7 linked regions of the Homo sapiens genome follow. The protein of the gene in region 3 purifies or fractionates together with the protein of the main gene of each other region. This does not show direct contact. Each region holds a gene or a part of one and is shown on either strand. Other genes may lie near its edges.

Region 1 (3,500 bases), on a different chromosome or scaffold from region 3:
TGTCACCCAGGCTGGAGTGCAGTGTCACGATCATGGCTCATTGCAGCATCCGGGGCTCATAATCCTCCCACCTCAGCCTTCTGAGTAGCTGGGACTACTGGCACATGCTACCATGCCTGGCTGATTTTTGTACCATTTGTAGAGACAAGAGTTTTGCCATGTTGCCCAGGTTTAAACTGTTACTCTTTTAAGCCTCCAAATTTTGGGGCTGTTTGTTACACAGCAGTGGATAACTAAAACACATGGTGAATAAATGGACATATACTCAGTAACACTGAGTAATGAGCCATCCCACATTACTGAATTTCCAAATATAATCCTTATTTGTTCAAACTTGTGTTATCCATTCCCGAGGAAAATGTTTTTAGATACTACACTACACTTTATGCTAAATGCAATTTAATATTTCCTTTCTTTTCTTTTCTTTTTTTTTTTTTTTTGTGAGACAGAGTCTCCCTCTGTCACCAGGCACAATCTCAGCTCACTGCACTCTCTGCCTCCCAAGTTCAAGCAATTCTCCTGCCTCAGCCTCCCCAGTAGCTGGGACTACAGGCGTGCATCACCACGCCCGGCTGATTTTTTGTATTTTAATAGAGATAGGGTTTCACCATGTTGGCCAGGATGGTCTCGATCTCCTGACCTCGTGATCCACCCACCTCGGCCTTCCAAAGTGCCGGGATTACAGGTGTGAGCCACCGCGCCTGGCCTTAATATTTTCTTGATGAGTTGGTCACCATTATGCACATCAGTTACTATGCTGTCCTATAATGTAACAACGCCTCCTACAGCCAGAGAAGGTGCATATGAGGGCTGTTGGTTGCAACACTCAACACCCCAGACATCTCTGTTCCTTGAAGATGCCCCCAAAAACACCTCCTCATCCCCCAAATTGCTCCTTCTAATGCTTGTGGGTTGAGAAACCAAAACCCTAACCCCGTTGGAACTATCTCAACAGGCTCCGAGGGAAGATATAAGGGTTCTTTTTTTTTTTTTTTTTTTTTTTGAGATGGGGTCTCACTGTTCCCCAGGCTGCAGTGGGGTGGTATGATCAGAGCTCACTGTAACTTCAAACTCCTGGGCTCAAGCCATCCCCCTCCCCAGCCTCCTGTACAAGACACACACCATCAGCCTGGGCGCTGTGGTTCATGCCTGTAATCCCAGCACTTTGGTAGGCCGAGGCAGGTGGATCACCTGAGGTCAGGAGTTCGAGACCAGCCTGGTTACTGTGGTGAAAACCTGTCTCTACTAAAAATACAAAAAAAATTAGCCAGGCATGGTGGTGGGTGCCTGAAATCCCAGCTACTTGGGAGGCTGAGGCAGGAGAATTGCTTGAACCTGGGAAGCGGAGGCTGCAGTGAGCCAAGATAGCATCATTGCACTCCAGCCTGGGAGACAGACTCAAAAAAAAAAAAAAAAAAAAACACACACACACACACCACCAAGCCCAGCTGAATTTTTTTTGGTGGTTGTGTACGTGTGTGTGTGTGTGTGTATGAAGATGGGGTCTCATTATGTTGCCCAGGCTGGTCTTGAACTCCTGGCCTCAAGTGATATTCCTGCCTCAGCCTCCCAAAGTGCTGGGATTCCAGGCATGAGCTACTGGTCACCGCCTAATGGGTTCTTTTATGACTCCAGTGAGAAGGAACTCCAAAATCCTACTGACCTGGGCTCCAATCCTGCTCTGCCTCTTACTAGGCATGTGGCCCTGGACAAGTCATTTCAGTTGTCACCCATTTCAGTTTCCTGATCTGTAAAATGGAAATAATATTTGCCTCTTGCCAGAAGGCACTAAACTGTAACAGAGCAAGAGCTCAGTAAACACAGCCACCTCCTCACTGTCCCTGCTCATGGGCCTCGACCTACGCACAATGTGTCTCTGAGTCTCCGTGTTGGTGATAGCACATACCCGTGGAATCTATTATCAAGAACGTGTAATTTGGTGATGGCTGGGCATGGTGGCTCACACCTGTAATCCAGCACTTTAGGAGGCCGAGGTGGGTGAACCGCCTGAGCTCAGGAGTTCAGGCCCAGCCTGGGCAACATGGTGAAACTCTGTCTCTATTTGAAAAAAAAAAAAAGGAAGAAGAAAAAGAAAAAAAGAAAAAACAAAAAGAATGTGTAATTTGGTGGGGGGGCAGCCAGGGGCAGAGGGTGGTGTTGGAATATTTACCCAGCATTAGACCACCCTCGTGGGATTTGCTGTTTGTTTATGAAGAAACTGCAGAATGCCAATAACCCTGGCATCCCAGCCATTCCATCTGACGGAGGGTTTACCCAGAAGGCTGGGCAGACCAAGCCCAGGAGTGAGCACGCATGTGTGTGTGTGTGTGCATGTGTGTGTGTGTGTGCATGTGTGTGTGTGTGTGCATGTGTGTGTGTGTGTGTGTGCCTGCATGTGCATATAAAACTACCCAGTTACCCACCCCTGGCCCAGCCCTGGGCTTCCGTTTCCTCTCTAGAAAAACTCGCTGACTATAAAGCGCTGATTTAAAATAATAAACACGAGGAGTCCAGTGTTCACAGCAAAATGTCAGGGAAATAATGTGGATGAAAGGTGGGGCCTAAATTGCATATGCATGATGATGACAAACTGGGAAAGCTCTGTTTATACACAGATCGGGGTCAGAAAAGGCCACAGAAAGCTGCGACAGGGAAAGGATGGAGGGGTTGATTTTCTGCAAAGTTGTTTACATGTTCAATGACTGATTATTCCTCCTCACATGCAGCTGAATCTGATGGCCCTGCAGTCCCCTTCTACGCACGTCATCATTGTTCTGGTCCCTGGACCCTCCACTGATGCCCATCTGCATACTCTCCACGGAGGGATGACGGCTTCTTTCCCGTCCCGGGTCAGTGGAGGAGCCCAGGGCCAAAGAGCCAGGACTGGCTTGAGTTTGCCTCCTCTTGCTCTGTGTCCTGCACACCTCTCCCTGCAGCCTGCTTCCTGAAGGCTGAAAGCCCCCAGGCCTGCTGCTTCCTGCCCACCGCACCTCACACCAGCTCCTGTCCCGATTCAGCCCCCTGCCTTTCTCAAGTACTCCTGGCCACGTGCCCACAGGGAACATCGTCATGGGCTTCTCCCTTCTTTGCATCCAATTCCCATGGGGAGAAGGGGGTGCCTCCTGTTATACCTTAGGGACTGCCATCTCTTGGCACTGTTCAGCTACGTTGCTTAGCAAAGACATTTGGGGGCAGCCAGAAAAGTAGGAGGCCCAGATGCCTGGGTTCCAGAGAAAGAGAGGCTTTCAGGGAAGTCCCCCAACCCACCTTTCTCACTCATCAGTGACCCCTCCCCTGTAATCCAGCCCCACTACCTCCTCTCAACCTCACTGAGCCTCAGTCCCCTTATCTGTGAAATGGAGCCAGTAACATCCAGGATTAAATGGGATGAGGTGCATGCAACAGCTACCTGCCGTCTGCAGACAGGGTGTCTCTGGAAGCCTCAGTTTCCTCTCACCCTCCCTACGGCAGCTCCCTCCAGCCCCTAGGAGCAAATGTTC
Region 2 (2,937 bases), on a different chromosome or scaffold from region 3:
TTGTGGGTGGAAATTTCCTTTTAAGCAAGAACAGTGTACTATATTGACTGACCATGTCTTCCAAGGTATTGTCCCTGAGAACCAGGATGTAGACAAGTGTTCTTAGTCTAACTGAGTGAATTAAAAAAGTGTGTTGGCGTGAATGGCCATGTGCATTTTCAAGGAGGAGGGGCATGCGCCAGGGCCTATGGAATTAACATTTTACAAGCATATACGTAACATTTGTCTGTAGGTCAGAAAGGGACTGCTAGGTGTGCATGTTTCCCAAGTCTGAAACTTGCCCTGGAAGCAGCAGCAGGGTGTGGGTGGTGGTTCAGAGGAAAAACGCTGTTGGAACATTAGACATGTGCAGTAATCAGTTATCTTCACAATCTGCAATCAGTTGCAAGAATTTCTCAGGCCTTAAAATTTGTAAAAGAAGCAGTTGTGTTTGCTTTGTGCCTTATATAACTATCCCACGTAATACTTTGAAATATCAATGTCTTCGTTGAAAAGCTTGAAAACATTTTACTTGAAGTGTGTGAGTGAAGGGATGAGGATTCTAAGGAGTGGTGATTAACAGCTTGGGGAGAGTGCCCATCATTCCCTGAACCCTGCTCTGTGTGATCTGGCCAGCTGGCTCCCAGGTTTTTTTATCCATGCCGGAAGAGCCAATAAAAAGATAAAGTCAATTACTAGGAGAGGCCACAAGTGCCTGCCAGAGTTCTGATGTATTTTCTCAAATGAAAGGGCCAAATAGAGATGTCAAGCAGGCCTGAGTTGAGCACTGGCTTTCTGCCAGTAGCTGTGTGCCCTCTTTGGGCCGCAGTCACTTTACTGGTAAAATGAAGTCACATCACCTATCACTTCCCCTTCTCTCCACTGCACACCCCCAGTACAAGCCATAGTCATACTGTATGTAGCCACTGTAGGAGCGTCCTAACTGCTCTCCCTACTTTGAATCTTGCCTCCCTAAAATCCATTCTCTACCCACCAGCCAGAGTGGTGGTGAAGCTCACCATCTTTATCTGAAACCATCTTGTGTGTTTGTTATTGTCTCTCTGACCTCCCCACTCCAGAATGCAATCTTCACAGTCTCTGTTCTATCCTTTTGGTCATTACTCTCCTCCTAGCCACTGACACCTCTCATTTTCTCCTGTTCTCATTCTTAATTTTAGCAGTTTTTTTCCTGAGCTAGTTTGAAATGGGAGTCAGAAAACCTGGGGTCTAGTTTTAGTTCTGTGACTTCCTTGTTGGCCCTTAGTTAAGAAAGTCACTTCACTTCTCCAGGCCCCAGTTTCCTTCCCTGTGAAGCTGAGTGTAAGAGTCAGCAAGCACTGCAGTAACAAAGGACCGCAGACTGCATGGCTTAAACAACAGAAATTGGTCTTCTCACAATTCTGGAGCCTCAGAAGGCCAAGACCAAGGTGTCTTCTGAGGTCTCTCTCTTGGCTTGCAGATGGCTGCCTTATCACCATGTCTTCACTGTGTCTTCCCTCTGTGTGCGTCTGTGTCCTCATCGCTTCTTTTTATTAAAGACACCAGTTATATCGGAGTGTAGCCAACCCTAAAGACCTCATTTTACTGTAATTACCTCTTTAAAGGCCCTCTCTCACAGTAGTCGCATTCTGAAGTACTGGGGGTCAGGGCTTCAACATGGAGGTGGCATAATTCATTCAGCTCATAATACTAAATTATATCTAAGACTCCTTTCAGCTCTACAAAATTATATTTTAAATCGGGGATCTTTCTCCTTACACCCATGTTCCCTTCTACTCCCCTGAGATAATAGCTTGGTTCATATGCCTCCCCGTTTTTAGTACTCATGCATATCCTCACTGTATTTTTGAAGGGTTTAAAAGTCTGTGTATGTGTCTAGCAATCATATAAATAAGTTAAGGTCAACTGAAGTGGGAGGATGTATATATAAAATGTTAAATGGAACAAAAAAAATAGCCTCTGAGGAGGGATTTTAATTTTACTGTTTTTTTTTCTATATATAATAAAAAAAAATTTTCCCTCCTACAGCTGGAAACTGACAAACTAGCTCTCCCGATGAGCCCCAGCCCGCTTAGCCCGAGCCCCATCCCCAGCCCCAACGCGAAACTTGAGAATTCCGCTCTCCTGACGGTGGAGCCTTCCCCACAGGACAAGAACAAGGGCTTCTTCGTGGATGAGTCGGAGCCCCTTCTCCGCTGTGACTCTACATCCAGCGGCTCCTCCGCGCTGAGCAGGAACGGTTCCTTTATTACCAAAGGTACGGGCATCGCAGCAGACCTCACACACGCACTTAAACCCCCCAAAGAGCCCCTGGGATTCGTCCCTCCCCGTCCACAGTCCAGTTGTAGCTGAGAGTTGAGTCATCTGAATTACCTGCCCAGGAAGACCAGTCCAAAACTTCAAGATACGCTGGCCCGAGAGTAACCTCGCCATTGGCTGGCGAAGACACGCCTCCAAAATCTTTGCAGCTCGCACTGCCCGGTGGAGAGCTATCGGCCACCCTTTATCCTCATGATGCTATCAAATGTGTGTTTCGGGGAAGGCCTGATAAAATGTAGTCTGGCAAGATTTTTGAAAATTATTTACCAAGCTTGCTGTATCCAAAGATTTAAAGTTGAACTTATCTTGAGAGTCAGAAGTACAGGTTTTAGGCCGTGCGCAGCAGCTCACGCCTGTAATCCGAGCACTTTGGAAGGCCGAGGTGGGCGGATCACTTGAAGCCAGGAGTTAGAGATGAGCCTGGCCAACATGGTGAAACCCCATCTCTACTAAAAAAAAAGAAAAATTAGCCCGCTGTAGTTCCAGCTACTCAGAGGCTGAGGCAAAAGAATCACTTGAACCTGAGACGCGGAGGCTGCAGTGAGCTGAGATTGTGCCACTGTACTCCAGACTGGGTGACAAGAGCAAAACTTTGTCCCAAAAAAAAGAAAACTACAGGTTTTAGTGACTTAAAAATAC
Region 3 (3,500 bases):
TGGTGTCTCAAACACTTGGAGCGCAGGGGCACAGAACTCCAGGTTCTAGGAACCAGAGCGGAAGAAAACAGGTGGTGGAAATGGCCTTTCTCAGAACTGCAGTGACACACCAGCCAGAGCTGAAAGCCACATGCTGGCCCACTGGGAGGGATCCAGACCCCCACCCATCCCAGGAGGCCCCTGCTCAGGCTGTTTGGGGTGTGGCCGAAGGCTTACTCAGCCTCTGCAGAAGCGGGGAAAGGGGAGCGGAGTGCAGCCCGGGGCCCCCACTTTTTGCTCACACCAATGGGTGTGTCTGGACATTCCTCATCTGAATGTTTATTTCCATTTTCACCAACACAGAAGCATGGGGTGAGAGTCTCCAAACTCACAGTGTGGCCAGATGATGGTTACCTTAAAAATTAAAAGGTTAGCTTTTGCAAGACAAAAAAAGTGAGCGACTAAATGGAATATGGATGAACTTTTGCATGCAGAGCTGAAGTGATCAGCAATGCCCAGTGTGGCTGGAGGGAGCTGGCTCTGAGTGTCCCTACCTGGCAGGCAGCATGAGGGAGCTGTCTCCTGCCATATGGTTTAAACTCAGTCAAAGAACTAAGAGTTGAGTACAGCTTATCAGAATGGCTTGCGGGATTCGAGCCCCTGTCGTGTGACCGCCAGGGCCACCCGGGCATCTCTATTCTTGCTGTAACTGTCCTGAATCTTCTCAGCACCAGAGCCTGCTGGATCTCTACTTCAGAAATGAATTTCAAATTCAATTAAATAAAGAGTTTGCTATTGAATCTGAAATGGAATAAGAGATTTGATTTTCCAAGAGATACTTTTTACCCAGTTAAGATATTAAGTCAGTCTTTTATAACACTGTCCAAGATATATCTTATCAGAAGGCAAAGAGCTGACTGGGTCCAATTCAGGCTGTGGTGGCAAGATGGGCATGAGAAGGAACAGCCTGTGGGAAGATGGAAGACTCCCATGCATGAACTCCTGATGCCGGGGCAAGGGAGGACAGGAGGACGGGAGGAAGGAATGGGGACATGGGTCACTCCAGAATCAGGGGAGAGTAGGAAATCCAGCAAAACCAGGAGAGAACCGGCTCCCCGGGGAAGTCTCCCTGGTAAGAAGAGCGCTGAGGCAGCCACGGGCAAACAGGGCGCTAGGCCACGCAGCTCTCACACTCGCCCCCAAGGCCCACCCAGGCAGGGAAATCCGAGGCCTCCCTTGGTGGGTGGTCTCCAAGGCCACGTGCACTTACGTTCAATGAGGAAGAGAAAGCACACTATCCCCATGGCTGCCACGATGGCTCCAGGCACGACGAAGGACAGGCCCCAGCATGTGGACACCCAGTAGCCAGCGATCAATGACCCCAAGATGTTGCCCACGGAGGTGTGGGAGTTCCAGACCCCCATAATCAAACCTCTCCTGCAGCACAACAAAACAGAAGACAGAAGATGGAGCTGAGAAGCTGAAACGAGTCCAGCAGTGCAGGGCGCAGCAGTGCCTGCAAAGTAGGGAGTCGGCGCAGAATCAACGGGGGGCCATGCAGACCCTGCTTCTGTGCCATGCAGGACTCGCGATGCTCACGAGAGCTGATGTGTTTATGTGGCCTCAGGCTGTGCCATCACCCATTCTACCTCTTGCTCTGAGCGCATTCTGTACTCAAGAAGAAGAAAGAGGCCTTTCCCTGAAAGTCTTGGAAGGCCTGAAATTAAAATTTGTGCCTCTACAATCAATTAATACATACAGTCACTTGATGAACTGTCATTTGAACAAAACTCATGGATGCACACACCAGGTGAATGAGGCACAGTATCTAAGACTTAAGACCTGATGACGCTGGTGTTCCCGTTTTAGCTTCCGCATCTTGTTTGCGATCGTCCACCATAAATAAGCCTTTGGCCTGGCTGAGCTGAATTTTACAAATAAATAAATTTTATCTGTATAAAATAAAAGCCATTTACAAATAAATCTGGACTCGCCAGGCTGGGTCCCAGCTCTGCTACTTTGGTGCTGTGCGCTGGGTGACCCAGGTCGGGACTTCCCAAACTCCCATGTTAACATGTAGCTTTGGCTTCAAAAGGCCTGGGGCAGGGTCCTGGACTCTGCATCTCCCACAACACCTGGGAGGCCAGATGCAGCTGTCAGAGGAGCCGCCGAGTGACACGGACTTCACCAGGCCCACAGTGGGAGGGCGGAGCTCCCCTGTCTCGTGGGACACAGGCCATCTGAATTTCAGCAATTCAAGCCCCAGAGGTTTCAGCCATCTTATTTTAAAGAGGATACTAAAGTGTTTTTGCTGTAATCAGTCTACAGAAAAACTAAAAGTAAAATGGTCTAGTTTTCATCTGCTATTGGAAACAGGGCTGCTTTTTCTCACCTTCCTTTTCCAAACCAGTTGCCGAGGCAGGTGACGACGCTGGGCCAGCCGGTGGTCTGCACCAGCCCGTTGATGACCTGCAGGAGAGGCCAAAGGAGAGACTGACCTGTGGGAAGCAGGCCCGGGACAGCGCTGCAGGGAGGTGCACAGAGCTTGCTCCACTTACACAAAGCAGGGGGCACGACAGCCAGAGATGGACTGTCAATTTTATATTTATATACAGTTTAAACTACATATATATTTTAAAACCATGTATACAGGTATCTATATATTTTTCAAAATAAAAGCAATGCATGCCTATTGTGGAAATTTTAGAATAAGCAGAGAAAAGCGAGGAAAAAAAACCCAGCCAGAACCCCACCACCAGCAGATCACACCTCATAACAGTGTGGGGCCAAGCTTCCCGGTCTCTTTTGAATCCAAAAACTTCATAGAAAGAGGCTAGGTGCAGCGGCTCATGCCTGTAATTCTAGCACTTTGGGAGACCAATGCAGGAGGGTCTCTTGAGTTCAGGAATTTGAGACCAGCCTGGGCAATATAGAGAGACCCCCTTGTCTACAAAAAATTAAAAATTAGCCAGGTGTGGTGGTGCACACCTGTGGTCCAAGCTACTCAAGAAGCTGAGATGGGAGGATTGCTTGAGCCTGGGAGGTCAAGGCTGTAGTGAGCTGTGATTGCATCACTGCACTCCAGCCTGGGCAACACAGTAAGACCCCATCTCAAAAAATAAACAAATACAAACTTTTTAAAGAGAGAAAACCTTTCTTCTCTTTATGAACTGTTTATAGAATTGTATGATAAACATGGCTTGTGAATTGCATGTTTCCCTTACCATGCCATGGAGAAGGTACTGTTGTTAATCATTCTCTGGAATGAACACGAACTTGACTTCGCGCCTGGACAAAGTATCTCTGCACTTTTGAAGAATCCCTGACTTGAGTTTCATGAAGGGACTTGGGGAATGTATTGCTGAGGACGCTCTAGCGTCTTGAGACTCGGGGGTGGCTCTACAAGACTGCACGAAACCAGGGCCAGCCTGGCAGCTCCGACTACCTCACTGCAGTAAGCCAGCTCTCTAGAGCAGGGTCCCCAACCCTGGGCCAGCCTGGCAGCTCTGACCACCTCACTG
Region 4 (3,500 bases), on a different chromosome or scaffold from region 3:
GGCCCCGGCTGCCTTTCTTCCTTTGGGACTAACAGCTATGTAGAAGAGGCAGCCCACCCCTAAGGTTCAGGCATCTGCTCAACTAAAGCAGCTGCGGTTCTGAGTTGGGTTAGAACATTGCAAGAGTTCATCAAGAGACGGGGGAGAGTTCGGAGGTCAGGGTGAGGTGAGTCCCAGAGGAGACCAAGAAGAAGTGATGTGAACTAGGTTTGGAGGGATGAGTAGGAGTTTGAAGAAGAGAGAAAGGACTTGAGATAGATAAAAACCAGTATGAATAAAGACTGGGAGGTGTTGTCACTTGTGAAGTATTCAGAGATGTGGCAGATCACAGAGGGCATTGAATGCCCTGTTAAGTACCTGTAATTTTACTCTGAGAACCCAGAGAGAAAACACCAAAGGTTTAAAGCTTGGATAGGGAGGGTGGAGTGTGCTGTGGTCAGGTTTATGTTTCCAGAAAATGCTCTGTGGCTATGGGAAAAGGATGGAGACAGGATGCCCAGTGGGGCAAGAGGGTGCAGGTAAGTAAGGTGAGAGAAGATGCTGGCTTTGATAGGTGGTAGCATGGTGCCATCTTGAAGGTACACTTGTCAGGACAGAATGATTTATTGGATGTGGGAGTGAAGGAGAGGAAGAGGAAGGAGTCCAGGTTCCTCGGAGTGGTTGAGCGGGCCTTCACTGAAGGCCCTGAAGCTTCACTGTGTTAGGGACTTGGTGAGGAGGGGCAGAGAATAAGCTCTTAGTTGGACATGTGGCCCTTGAGGTACTTGGGACATTGGAGGCTCAGTGGGGGAGGCACATCAAGGAGGGGCTTTGGTGTGAGGGTATGGGAGAGAAATGTCGGTCGGACCAAGAGAAGCGAGAGCTGTATGAGAGACCATAGAGCTGTGCACCTCGAGAGAAAGTAACCTCCGACAGTGGTGAAGAGCTCGAGTTTTATACTGCTAGGATTGGACTCTGTTTACTAGCAGCGTGACTTTAAGCAAGTGGCTTAACCTCTCTGAATCCGCTTCCTCATTTGTCAAATGATTATAATAAAAACCCGTGCCTTATAAGGGTTGTTATGAGGATTAAAGATAGTATGCATAAAGTGTGTGTAGCACAGGGCTTGGCATCTAGTGAGTACTGTTGTCTGTGTTTGCAGTTACTGTAATCATCCTCAACTGGGATGGTGTAAACCCACCCTCCCATCAGGGGTCACATGAGGTTGCCTTTAATGAGAAGATAGACTGCTAAGGTTAGGGTCCCTGTCTGCCTAAGGTTGCTGCAATTCTGAGCTGAGATTAGCAGGTCAAGGAGCTCAACAAAGGGGGTGCCTGCCCCTATTGTTATCGATGGGATTGTTTGTGTTGCTCAGGTGTTTGACCTTCAGGTGGGTGGGCTTGAGAAGACTAGAGGTGAGGCCTGCAGAAGAGACTCCATGTTTGGGGTAGGTGGAAGGGAATTTTGAGAAGGGGCAGCCTTGGGGTATTGAGTTCTCCATTTCCTCCCACCCTCCCTGGGCCCTGGGCTTCTACTGAGGCTCTTTCTGCCACCATCTGCCTCTGTGGTCCAGATGCACCATGTCTCTGTGTGACCGTGACTTCTAGGTCTGAGAACTCTGGTTTTAGCTCCTTAGCAGTATTTTAGCTGCTGTTTCTGGGGACTGTTCCTGGTGCAGCCACAGGGGCATTCTGGGGGTTGCTCCAGAGGGCAGCTGTGCCTGCATTCCCCTAGGTATCATCGACTTGCTCCTGACCCACTGCCGGGCCAGGTTTCAGGCCTGGCAGATGATGGGGAACCCTACTGGGGCCAGCCCTGCGTTGGCCCCAAGGGCTTTCTTTCTTGATATTGGACATGACTGTGGACTTCACCCCTTCTGAGGCCTTCCTGGGTGCCAAGCAGTGTGATTTCTTTCTTTTTCTCTTTGGTTTGAAACAGAATCTCACTCTGTTGCCCAGGCTGGAGTGTAGTGGTGCAGTCGTGGCTCACTGCAGCCTCCACCTCCTGGGCTCAAGTGATCCTCCCACCTCAGCCTCCTGAGTAACTGAGACTACAGGTGTAGTCCCACCTGGCTAATTTTTGTATTTTTTTAGAGACAGGGTTTTGTCATGTTGTCCAGGCTGCTCTTGAACTCCTGGCTCAAGTGATCCACCTGCCTTGGCCTCCCAAAGTGCCGGGATTACAGGGGTGAGCCACTGTGACTGGCCAGCAGTGTGATTTCTAACTTGGGTCCTGAACCATTCAGGCCCTTTCTGAGTAGCTTTCTAGTCAACCTTCCAGATGTCAGCTCTGGCTCTGTTCTGGGGGTGTATCTGGTTGTCCTGGTTGTTCTGGGCTCTGTCCCAGTGTGAGTGTAGAGTGGGTTCTGGGAGCTGCAGTTGGTGAATCTGAGTCTTTATTTGGTTGCCTGATAGGTTGTTTTGAGGTCAGTTTGATCCCAGACTGACGTGGTTCAAAGTTACTGTTTGGCTTTTCTAGGATCCTGCCCTCATGCTGTTCTGTGTGCCTCAGGGTCTTTGCAAATGTTTAGTCTTCTAAAATGGCCCCTGGCCACTTTGGGTACACACCTCTTTCCAGGTGTGGCTTCTGCTCCATGTAGGGCCTGTCTCAGTCTCCAAGCACGAGACCCTGCTGTGGCTGGGTGTGGCAGCAGCGCCTGGCCAGCTTGGGGGGCCTTTCCCATTACCCAGTTCCCTGCCTTGGACTCTGCCCCTCTGCCCAGGGTCTCTGCACAATGGTGCAGCCAAAAACCTCACTTGAATACTGTGAGGCCCTGCGGGCATCTCTAGACAAATGGGCCTTTAAGTTTGGGGCCTGGAAGCTGGTTTGTCTGGCCAGACCTGCTGGGCAGCCTGTATGCTGGGAGCAGCAGCTGCTGGAAACTCAGCTTGGGGAGCGGGGAGGGAAGCATGCAGAGAGGGCTGCGGGTTCTGGTGCAGGTAGGTGGGGCAGTGGAGGCTGGGTCGCCAAGCTGGCGAGGGCCATCTTGGGTCAGTTGGGATGGCCTTCAGTCGGTGAGAGTACCCCCATATTGGCAGAGGTGGTTAGTGCAACTTGAGGGTAATTCCCAGGTGCAGAGGTGTGTCCTTGATTTCATGATGAGGGTCAGTCTTGGGCCGGTGAGGACATTCCCACGCACCACCCTCCCACTGTGGTTTCTTTGTGTCCGTTATAGGAGGAGCCAAGGTGGCAGAGTGGTGTGGGGTGGGGATCACTGTGCATGTGGGGGCTTGAGGTGAGAAGCCTGCTGCAAGGTGCAGCTTGCGTCGAGTAGGCCAAACAGCTGAGCTTCCGTGAAGTGGTGATGAGGTGGTATGGGTGTGTCTGACCCCCACCCCCACCCAGGATGGTACCCACGCTGGTGGGGACTCAATAATGGCTCTAGAAGGAAGGGGCTGGGCTCTGTCGCTGCATGTGTGCCAGCGGAGGAGGCATCCAGGGGCACGCCTTCATTTTAAAAATTATAGAGTAGAGAAAGTCAAAAATAAATATTGCTTCTGAAGCTTCTTTGAAGACTGGCA
Region 5 (3,500 bases), on a different chromosome or scaffold from region 3:
AGCCTGGGTGACACAGCAAGACTCCATCTCATAAAAAAGGCTAGGTCTTGAACCCCGGGCTGTCCGTTGGGTTGTGGTTCAAGGGAGTGGAGTCATCCAAACTGTACCTGGGCCACAGGAGGTGGGGTCTCTGAAGCCTTCTGCTCCTCTCCAAGGACCTCATTTAGCTCCGCCTGCAGGGACACACAGCCAGGGCAGGATATAAGGGCCTGCTGGATGGGGGCAACCGGATCAGAGCCCCCACCCCGCCCTCAGTGCTCACCAGCAGGTCATCATCAGCCTCCAAGTCGTCCTCATCCGTCCCCTCCTCCTCATCCTCATCCGGGTCTCTCATGCACAGGCTGGCCATCTTCTCAATGGCCTCCATCGGCAAGGGACCTGGCGGTAGGGGGATGCCCCAGGTGGACCAGGGTCGTACACCAAGAGCCCCCATTTCCCATCCTGGACACGCTAGGTGATCCCACTTCTCGCTGACTTCCCCATTTCATCTCTTCCTTATTCAGCCTCAGGTCTGGGGCCTGGCTACCTGAATTCAAAACCCAGCTCTGCAGACCGGGCACAGTGACTCACGCCTATAATCCCAGCACTTTGGGAGGCCGAGGCAGAAGGATCACTTGAAGTCAGGCGTTCAAGACCAGCCTGGCCAACATGGTGAAACCCTGTCTCTACTAAAAATACAAAAATTAGGCTGGGCGCAGTGGCTCACGCCTGTAACCCCAGCACTTTGGGAGGCCGAGGCGGGTGGATCACAAGGTCAGGAGATCGAGACCATCCTGGCTAACACGGTGAAACCCCGTCTCTACTACAAATACAAAAAATTAGCCAGGCATGCTGGCGGGCGCCTGTGGTCCCAGCTACTCGGGAGCCTGAGGCAGGGGAATGGCGTGAACCTAGGAGGCGGAGCTTGCGGTGAGCCAAGATCGCGCCACTGTACTCCAGCCTGGGCGACAGAGCGAGACTCCGTCTCAAAAAAAAAAAAAAAAAAAAAAAAAAATTAGCTGGGCATGGTGGCGTGTAATCCCCGCTGCTAAAGAGGCTGAGGCAGGAGAATCACTTAAGCCCAGGAGGCAGAGGTCGCAGTGAGCTGAGATTGCGCCACTGCACTGCAGCCTGGGCAACAGAGCAAGGGTTTGTCTCCAAAAAAAAAAAAAAAAACACACACACACAACAACAACAAAAAAAACCCCAGCTCTGCAACTTTCTCTCTGTGAGAACTTCGGCAAGTGATGTCACCTCTCTGAGCCTCAGTTTCTCCCTCTGTGACACGGGGATGACAACAGTTCCTCCTTCATAGGTAGGTTGGAGCAGAGAAGGTCAATGAAGCTCTTAGAATAGCATATTGCCAATATCTTGTTATTAGTTATGTTACATTCTATAAAGCTGCTTTGAAGACTAAATTAATGACTATAAGACTGTTGCTCCTAGGGGAAATTTAAGCTTAGGTTCCTGTGAATCTCCAGTCATAACCTTTTTTGGAGACAGGATCTTGCTCTGTCACCCAGGCTGGAGTGCAGTGGCCCAATCAGAGCTCACTGCAGCCTCAAACTCTTGGCCTCAAGTGATCTTCCTGCCTCAGCCTCCCGAGTAGCTGGGATTACAGGCATGCACCACCACACCCAGCTCTGGTCACAAAATTTTAATCAACTGATCAATACACAACCTTGCTCTATGTGTGTTTCTGTTTGAAGACACCTTCCTGAATAGATATCGTTCATTCATTAACTTTGAATTCACAGCCAACAGCACAGTAGTTCATGCCTGAATGAAGCTTCTCTCTTTTTTGTTTTTTGGAAACAGGATCTTGCTCTGTCACCCAGGCTGGAGTGCAGTGGCGCAATCTCTGCCCACTGCAACTGCTGCCTCCTGGATTCAAGCGATTCTCATGCCTCAGCCTCCCAAGTAGCTGGGATTACAGGTGTTCGCCACCAAGCTTGGCTAATTTTTGTATTTTTAGTAAAGACAGGGTTTCACCATGTTGGCCAGGCTGGTCTCGAACTCCTGGCCCCAAGTGATCTGTCCACCTTGGCCTCCCAGAGTGCTGGGATTACATGCATGAGCCAATGTGCCTGGCTGACATGAGCTTATTGTGTGTGAGGGGGCCCTGGGTGAAATACTTATGGACTCCAGATTAACTCCTATAACATGGTTATTATTCCAGTTTTACAGATGGTGAAACTGAGGCCAAAGCACATGATGTGACTCATCAAGTCACATAACCAGTAAGTGGCAGAGCTCGGATTCCAACTCTCAGTCTCGGTCCAGACTTGATCTTTTTTTTTTTTTTTTTTTTTTTGAGACGGAGTCTTGCTCTGTCGCCCAGGCTGTAGCGCAGTGGTGCGATCTCGGCTCACTGCAAGCTCCGCCTCCCTGGTTCACGCCATTCTTCTGCCTCAGCCTCCTGAGTAGCTGGGACTACAGGCGCCCGCCACCACGCCCGGCTAATTTTTTTTTTTTTTTTGTATTTTTAGTAGAGACAGAGTTTCACCGTGTTAGCCGGGATGGTCTCAATCTCCTGACCTCATGATCTGCCTGCCTCGGCCTCCCAAAGTGCTGGGATTACAGGCGTGAGCCACCGTGCCCGGCCTCAGAGTCGATCTTGACTCTCTTACCCAGATCATTGGCTCCAGGAGAACAGGGGTCTTCTCTGTCTTCTTTCCCCTACCTACCCAGTGCCCCCAGTTCTGCGCCCGAACCACTTGCAGGAGATCAGAAAATGTTCTGAGGGTGTGTTAACCATCTCACCTTTGCCTTTGAGCTTCTCCAGGGCTGGGGGCTGGCCCCCGACCAAAGCCAAGAACTCAGCCTCCAGTTCTTCATCGTTAGCCCCGTCCTCAGGGATCATCAGGCCATCTGGGGAGAGGTCAACCAGCAGGCCCAGCTAGGGGAACAGCAAGGGTTCAGTCAGACCTTTGGTTCACCACATGGCTAGAGGCAGCCATGATGGCCAGAGAGTCCCCTTGGGAGGAAGGAAACAAGGTCTCCCAGGGAAAGCCATTTCCCTGGGGAGTGCCAGGAGGCTGGAACAAGCCCAGAACAGGTGTTCCAAGATAGGCCAGGCCCTCTGGCACAGTTCAACCTGGGGCAAAGGGCAAGAGACCCAGCTCTCTGATCTGAATCCACACTTATGATGTGCTGCTGGGCCAAGTTCAGTGGGAAAAGCAGGCCCCTGGCTGGGCGCAGTGGCTCACGCCTGTCATCCCAGCACTTTGGGAGGCCAAGGCAAGAGGATGGCTTGTGTCTGGGAGTTCCAGACCAGCCTGGGCAATACAGTGAGACCCCCAACTCTACAAAAAAAAAAAAAGTTTTTTGTTTTTTGTTTTTTTTTGACACAGAGTCTCGCTCTGTCACCCAGGCTGGAGTGCAGTGGTGCAGTCTCAGCTCACTGCAACCTCCGCCTCCGGGGTTCATGCCATTCTCCTGCCTCAACATCCCGAGTAGCTGGGACTACAGGCGCCCGCCACCACGCCCGGCTAATTTTTTTTTTGTATTTTTAGCAGAGA
Region 6 (3,068 bases), on a different chromosome or scaffold from region 3:
TGGAGAAGAAACTAAAAGTTATGGCCATAGAAAAAGCCCTGGTAAGAAAATATTTGAATGGTGTAAGATGGTGGAAGGAAAGCCATCCCACACCCCTACAACATATGTTCTGGCATTTATAAACTGCTTGATTGTGTGCCTCAAGGGGAGAAAAAGTCAAGCAATGCTTCAAAGGCCAGGCTTTCTAAGCAAATGAGTGGTTCAAAGCAGTGTTTGGCTCAAGGGCAGTCTGGTTTTATGGATAGGGCCGACCCAAGACATCTGCTCATGAAGAAATGTGGCATCTGTTGCCATTTCCTAAACTATAAGGTTTAGATAGATTGTCTTGAATTTTGATAGCAAATTTTTTTAAATTTATATTTCTGCCTCCTCGTACATCCTTATATATGGAAAAAAAAGTAAGAGTTCCTCAGATCAGAGCTCAGTAGCTGTGTCAATTTGAAGTTCAATCAGTGTAGTTGTCCTGGGGTGATCGCTGACTCTGCTCTGTTTCATATTTCAGTTGCTTGCTCCAAGGAGAGAATTTCTGAGAACAATGGGTGTTAGCAACTTTAAGTTACTCCCCAAACGTTTGCTGGCCACATTCTCATTTCTAAACATCTGGATCTGGGTAAAGGTTTGAATAGATGTAGGGAACAAAATTGGTTTTTCCATGGTGTAGTCTAATTTTGCCAAATCACCCAAGAAAGAAAGTATATGACGTGTGGAGTTTGCATTTCTTGGATGGGACCTATCGGGTCACCCAGCCCAGTCTTACAGTCATAAATTCCTACCTCTTAGTTCCTGCCAAAGGGCCTTCAGCCTCTGTGTGCACACTTATTGAATGAATGCTTTGCCTAAAGTTTGGCCTTTTGAAGAAAAACAGCATGTGATAATATAAAAATATGAGAGTTTAAAAAAAAAAAAGATCTCTGCCTCTCTTCTCTCTGCCTCGTCCCACCTTGCTGTCTGTCTCATTGTCTTTCTCTCCCCTCACCATGCGCTGAATTCAGATTTCTCTTTCTTTTATTATAGGCATGTTGTTTTGAATGTGGACTTTGTGGGAGGGAGAGGATTGTTCTGAGAACAGAAACTGGAAGATACGTCTGAGTTGATGGGACCAACAGGGCTTTGCTCCTCTGTGAGGGCCAAAGCCATTGATACTTGTCGGGGGTGATGAGGGCTTTAGCATCTCAAGGCAGACATATGAAGTATTTACTGCTAAACTATATTACTTACTAGTACAAATCTGTTGGAATTCAGGGGCAGTCTAAGATTTGGTGAGTGAAATGCCATCTGGCAAAATCGAGAAGAGAGTGTGGCCTGAGAGGGGAATGTTCAGCCTCACTGTCACATTAAGGGTACCTCAAAATACATGGTCCTTCCAGTGTGTTCCTTTTCCTTCCTCCATTTCACTTTGTCCCCTCTTCTTCCTTTCTCTCCCATTTTCCTGGCTTTTTAGCACTCAGCTTTTTTTTATAAGTATGTATTTACTTTTTATTATATATTTGGTCCTTTGGGACTTTGTGATGATTAAGAATTTATTCCATTCAGGATTTTAAAATGATGTGTTTAATATTTTGTTCTCTTAAACTCTTTTGAAGCTATGCTGCTAACCAGGTATAGGCCAGAAAGGAGGTGGCCCAGTCAGTACCTTGCTCACGTCAGCTAAGGGGGACAGTGATGTCATGTGGGTGACTCTTCTTCATTTGACCAAGGCCAGCCTCCTGTTCTTACCTCTGCCCATTCATTTCTGGCTATGGGAAAACTACCACCTGTTGAGTGAGCCAATGAGGCCAGGAAGATCAGAGGGGCTGGGTTCCGGCCCATGGGCCACTATTTGAATTTCTCTGTAGTAAGCTCTTTGTAGGGCTGGCTCCAACTGCAGTAGCCAAAGAAAACCTGTCTGACTCGACATTTTAATGCCTGAGAGTTGGTGAAAGTTCAGCTGAAGCTAATGTCTAGACATCAGCAGTAACTAGGCATCCAGAAAGTAGCTTCAACCAAAGCTAATAGAGCCCAAGTTTCCGCAGGAAGTTTGGTGCTGAGCTGTCCAGAGCAGTTGTTTATCTGAGTGTTGCTAGCCCTTAGCCATGCTTTCTTAGCTTTATTCTCGCCTGTTCCTAGGCATAGCCTGAACCAGAGCTATGGCTCACTGCTCGCTTTATTCTACTCCCTAGTCATGCGGAACAACATAGTCTAAAAAGGAAGATGTGGACTGGGGAGTTAGGAGACCTGATTTCTATTCCCTATGCTTCTACTAACTAGCCTCGAGATCTTAACCGCTCTGTGCCTCAGTGTTCCCATCTGCAAAATGGGGATAGTGTTAATTGCCCTACCTACCTCACAGGGTTGTTGTGAGGATAAACTGAGACAATGAATTCAAAGCAAGTTGACAAGTAAGTGCTATGCAAATTGTAAGAAATGGAAACAATCATGTTAAAAGCAATGGAATGGACATTGGCAGAAGGGTTAATGGATTGTCCAGCCCTTTCTCTGTGTGGCTTAAACCCAGGTCGCCATTGCTTTATACATTTTCACTTAGCACAGATTTGTAATTATGCATGTAATAAAGCACAGCCTTATCCACCCTGGTGTCTGGTGTGTTTCTAAAGACCCTAAACTTGGTAGCTATTGATTTCTGATCAGAAAACCACAGGGGCAGAGTGGAAGGTTCAGGGGAGGGTAGCACAAAACACAACTGCAAACCCCTACTGGCAGGCCCACTGCTTAAAAAGATTTATTAAATAGTTATTTTCACATTTACAGACTCAGTAATACTCTTTACCATAAGGAGGCAAATAAGAGGCAGCTTGCGTTTTTGGAGATGTTCCAGATACCCGGATACCTCATTCATTGTGGCTACTTAAATGTTCCTGTCTCATACATTGGTGATACTTTCCTGATGATGTGAGAATTGGCTGGGAGCTGTATTTTTCTCTCTCTTTGAGCTCTTAATGATGTAAGGTCGTGGGCTTTGACAGGCCTCTTGCCTACAGCTACTTTGTACAAGGAGGAGGATGGGTAATCAAAACGGTCCTCCCATGAATACTAGGATTCTTAGTACCCTCTTTATGGTGTATTGGGAT
Region 7 (3,374 bases), on a different chromosome or scaffold from region 3:
TCAACCACCTCCTGTGTAAAAGCCTCATAGAAGCCACTGCCTTCTGAAGGAAACACACCAACTGGCAGGGGGTCAGGGTAAGCCAGGAGTCACACCCAACTACCACTGCTCACACCCAAGAACCCCACCCTACCCTGGCCACAAAAACTGTGCCTAGACTCCAGCACAGCCTGCAGCTGTGTTTCAATTATAGCTGTGTTTGTAATTATAGGTCATGTGCCTTCTCCCCCACCCCAATCACTCCACCCCAATCACTCCATTTGGCTAACAAGTGACCATATTATAACACAAAAATGGAAAACAAACTGGAATGCTCGAAAAAGTTACAAATAAAAACGGTATGAAGGCATATTAAATTTTGGCTGATACTTCCCTTTGATTTTGCTAAACTATAGCAAAGGCTGGCTCAATGTTGATTTTTACTGAAGAGTATCATTAACTGAAGAAAGAAAAAAAGACATAAACAGTAGTGAAATAAAGAATAGGCAAATACACCAGAATTATGAATAGAAGCCATTTTAAAGAAGAGAAATATTCTACAACAGATGAAGAAAGTTTTAATTTCTTTTCACATTAAACATTGTTTACCACAATCAGCTAACAGAAATTACTGTAACATTGGTCACGATGACTTCATAAAACTAAAGATAAATGTTATGAGGAAACTTCATTTAACGTGAATGGTAATGTTAGATACTGTATTTTTCCATGGTAAAATACAACTTATCTTGAAGAGAAAGCAAATAGTTCAGATCAGGGAGACATGCTGAGGTTTTAATAAAGAAAAGCTTGGCCTTGTCCAGAACACTTAACAAAGTTCAGGACAATTTAGGTAAAAGAGATGAGTGAGACACCAGCGTTAGGCAGGGACATAGGCTCATCATTCAGGCTTTATGTACATTACTGGATCTATGCAGCTCTCACCTTTAGATAAGTGAGCTATATTTTTGGCAGAGGGATCTTCAAAAGTAGCCTTGGATATGAGGAATCGTATTTTAACCACCAGGCAGTCCAAGGAATTATTTTTAAAGGGACAGCTGAGTATTTCACGTATATACTATTAAGGCATCTAAATTTTTGGTGTTTTCAGTATATAATTTTACTGCTACTTTTTATTCTTTTTTTTCATATTGTACAACTATGATATTAGGTATTAAGCGACGTAATTCTTTCTCTACTAGTGAACCAGTTTATTTCACTTAGCAAACTCTAAATTGAGGGAAATATATAATCTGAGAACACACAGAAAAATATATTGAAAAACCAATAGAGAATTATTTTTAACCATCATAAAAACTCAATCTTAATTAACTGATAGTCTTTAACTTAAAAAAAGAGTAATCAGAATGAAAATAGGTATTAAAAATAATTACCAGTAGTTTGTTTTACAAAATAGAGCCATAAATTGTTTAATTGCCCAATTAAGCAACTACCAGATTCTTTAGTCAACACTAACAGAATTCACATTTCAGCTAGTCAACAAAGCATATAAATATTTAACATCTCTTGAAGATAACATTTTAGTGATAACGGAGACTACATAATTCTATCCATTGTTGTGACTGTCCACAAATTAACCAGGTTAAATATCAAAGATACATTGGGAATACTCCCCAAAACAACAACAGAATATTAATTAAATGAATTTTAAAAGCTTAAGAAATGAAAGTAGAAAACATGAATGAGACGGTGCTTAAACAATTATTGACCTAATCAAGACCTTTAAAATTACCACCAAAATGCACTATCATTTTTTTTTTATTTAGTTTACAGGAAGAATCTGTAAGTACAGGTTGCAGAAAGAAAACGTTTAGTGCTATTTACATTCATTTTAAAACTCTGCTCTATACAAATTTAATTCTGATCAGTATGAACAATATTTTCGTAGATCTACTGCATATAAAGCCTTTTCATCAAAGCATTAACAATGAATAAAATAACATGATTACATTTAAACAACGCTGACCATTTGAAACCATTTACATTTAATGTTTGTAAGGGCTGTTGACACTTAGTACAGAATGTAATGTCAGCCTGCAACTTCATTTTTATAAAGGCTAAACTTATTTATATGGAATATTGTTCTGTATACTACGCGCCAATCTATATTTTAAGTCCTGTAGTTAGGTATTTTATAAGTCTTTTATTAAATATATTCTACACATATTTGTAATTTCATCCAGGAAGAATTTCTTCCCAGTGAAAAAATATAAAAATCTTTCATATTTTTACAGGTTTAGATGAAAGTAGCTCATGCTTTAGTGCTGTGCAAATTGTTTTTAGCATATCAATCTTTAAATTATTGGTATGAAATAAAAGAAAAAGTGGCATTCTTGTGTATGCCATAAAAATCAGCTTTTGACTTTAATACAATTGCAAGCACTAATATCAAACGCAAACTATATAAAGAAACAAAATTAGTACTATGGAGTTTTTTTTTAATTTTAAGAATTCATCTGAACTCTAAGGAGTAAGCATGACACTGGATGTGGTTACAAATTAATGATAATTATGGAAAATTTCAATTTGCTGATATTCAAATACATAAAATTGATCAATGAGGTTTTCTAATATTTCTGCACAATAATGAAAGCCGATGAGTGACTGAAACTACCCTCCCACATTAAGGCTAGGAGACGCACTCTCACCCCTTCTTGTGCTGTCTAAACAAACACTCAGTTACTGTAGGACTCAAGAGTGCATGTCTTAAAGGAAAAAAAATTAGTTTCATCAGCCCTCTACTGAGTGCTTTAAACAGGCACATTTTGTTTTTTCATTTGTTGCAGTGAAAATAGTCACACTCAGTTTAGTATTCTGTGCCAGTGCAGCCACCACGGCTGACTTTGGTAGAATTCACCCAACATTTTAGTTTCTTTTCCATTTTTTCCTCTCAAGTTGGCCCAGTAATTAACTTCATTAATTGCTGAGTGTCTTCCAGTGTGGAATTGTATATATAAGTATTTCTAGATACCACACACTGTTATAAATTCTGCTGATGAGGAAAATAATGCCAATCTTTTTAATGCAAATTGTATTTGGAACACTTGATTTATTAGTTCTGATGATGAAAATTTTGTGGCAGCAAAATGGTTTCTGCTACGAAAGATAACTTGTTAACTTTTCCCCTGGAGATTGACTGCATTCAAAAACCAATATGTGTTAAAACAGCTCAACAAAAAATACAAGAAATAAAAAATCAGAGTGAAAAATGTTCTTGGTTCTTTTTACTTTCATGAGAAAAGATGACAGTGTTCATGTGGTAATTCAGTTCCATGTGTTTACAGGCAGACTGTTCTGAACGGTTTCTGAAGCAATGTCGGGTCTTTTCTGTCCCAGCAGCATGAAAGACAAAGACTATATCACATCACACTAGG

Evidence for each region.
Region 1: the proteins of SLC37A1 (region 3) and ADCY3 purify together in Homo sapiens (affinity purification with mass spectrometry; one large-scale study listed by BioGRID and IntAct). This does not show direct contact.
Region 2: the proteins of SLC37A1 (region 3) and TNFRSF21 purify together in Homo sapiens (affinity purification with mass spectrometry; one large-scale study listed by BioGRID and IntAct). This does not show direct contact.
Region 4: the proteins of SLC37A1 (region 3) and PTPRF purify together in Homo sapiens (affinity purification with mass spectrometry; one large-scale study listed by BioGRID and IntAct). This does not show direct contact.
Region 5: the proteins of SLC37A1 (region 3) and CC2D1A purify together in Homo sapiens (affinity purification with mass spectrometry; one large-scale study listed by BioGRID and IntAct). This does not show direct contact.
Region 6: the proteins of SLC37A1 (region 3) and CLCN5 purify together in Homo sapiens (affinity purification with mass spectrometry; one large-scale study listed by BioGRID and IntAct). This does not show direct contact.
Region 7: the proteins of SLC37A1 (region 3) and UBL3 purify together in Homo sapiens (affinity purification with mass spectrometry; one large-scale study listed by BioGRID and IntAct). This does not show direct contact.

Annotation. Positions count from the first base shown.
Region 1 is NC_000002.12:24,910,238-24,913,737, forward strand, and holds part of ADCY3 (adenylate cyclase type 3), read right to left. Parts: intron 1-3,500.
Region 2 is NC_000006.12:47,233,969-47,236,905, reverse strand, and holds part of TNFRSF21 (tumor necrosis factor receptor superfamily member 21 precursor), read left to right. Parts: intron 1-2,007; coding exon 2,008-2,236; intron 2,237-2,937.
Region 3 is NC_000021.9:42,541,352-42,544,851, reverse strand, and holds part of SLC37A1 (glucose-6-phosphate exchanger SLC37A1), read right to left. Parts: intron 2,449-3,500; coding exon 2,372-2,448; intron 1,417-2,371; coding exon 1,250-1,416; intron 1-1,249. UniProt on the Homo sapiens protein: Inorganic phosphate and glucose-6-phosphate antiporter. May transport cytoplasmic glucose-6-phosphate into the lumen of the endoplasmic reticulum and translocate inorganic phosphate into the opposite direction. Independent of a lumenal glucose-6-phosphatase.
Region 4 is NC_000001.11:43,533,883-43,537,382, forward strand, and holds part of PTPRF (receptor-type tyrosine-protein phosphatase F isoform 1 precursor), read left to right. Parts: intron 1-3,500. UniProt on the Homo sapiens protein: Possible cell adhesion receptor. It possesses an intrinsic protein tyrosine phosphatase activity (PTPase) and dephosphorylates EPHA2 regulating its activity.
Region 5 is NC_000019.10:13,909,201-13,912,700, reverse strand, and holds part of CC2D1A (coiled-coil and C2 domain-containing protein 1A), read right to left. Parts: intron 2,879-3,500; coding exon 2,743-2,878; intron 379-2,742; coding exon 263-378; intron 174-262; coding exon 108-173; intron 1-107. UniProt on the Homo sapiens protein: Transcription factor that binds specifically to the DRE (dual repressor element) and represses HTR1A gene transcription in neuronal cells. The combination of calcium and ATP specifically inactivates the binding with FRE.
Region 6 is NC_000023.11:50,096,663-50,099,730, forward strand, and holds the end of CLCN5 (H(+)/Cl(-) exchange transporter 5), read left to right. Parts: 3' UTR 1-2,568; downstream 2,569-3,068. UniProt on the Homo sapiens protein: Proton-coupled chloride transporter. Functions as antiport system and exchanges chloride ions against protons. Important for normal acidification of the endosome lumen. May play an important role in renal tubular function.
Region 7 is NC_000013.11:29,763,871-29,767,244, forward strand, and holds the end of UBL3 (ubiquitin-like protein 3), read right to left. Parts: 3' UTR 501-3,374; downstream 1-500.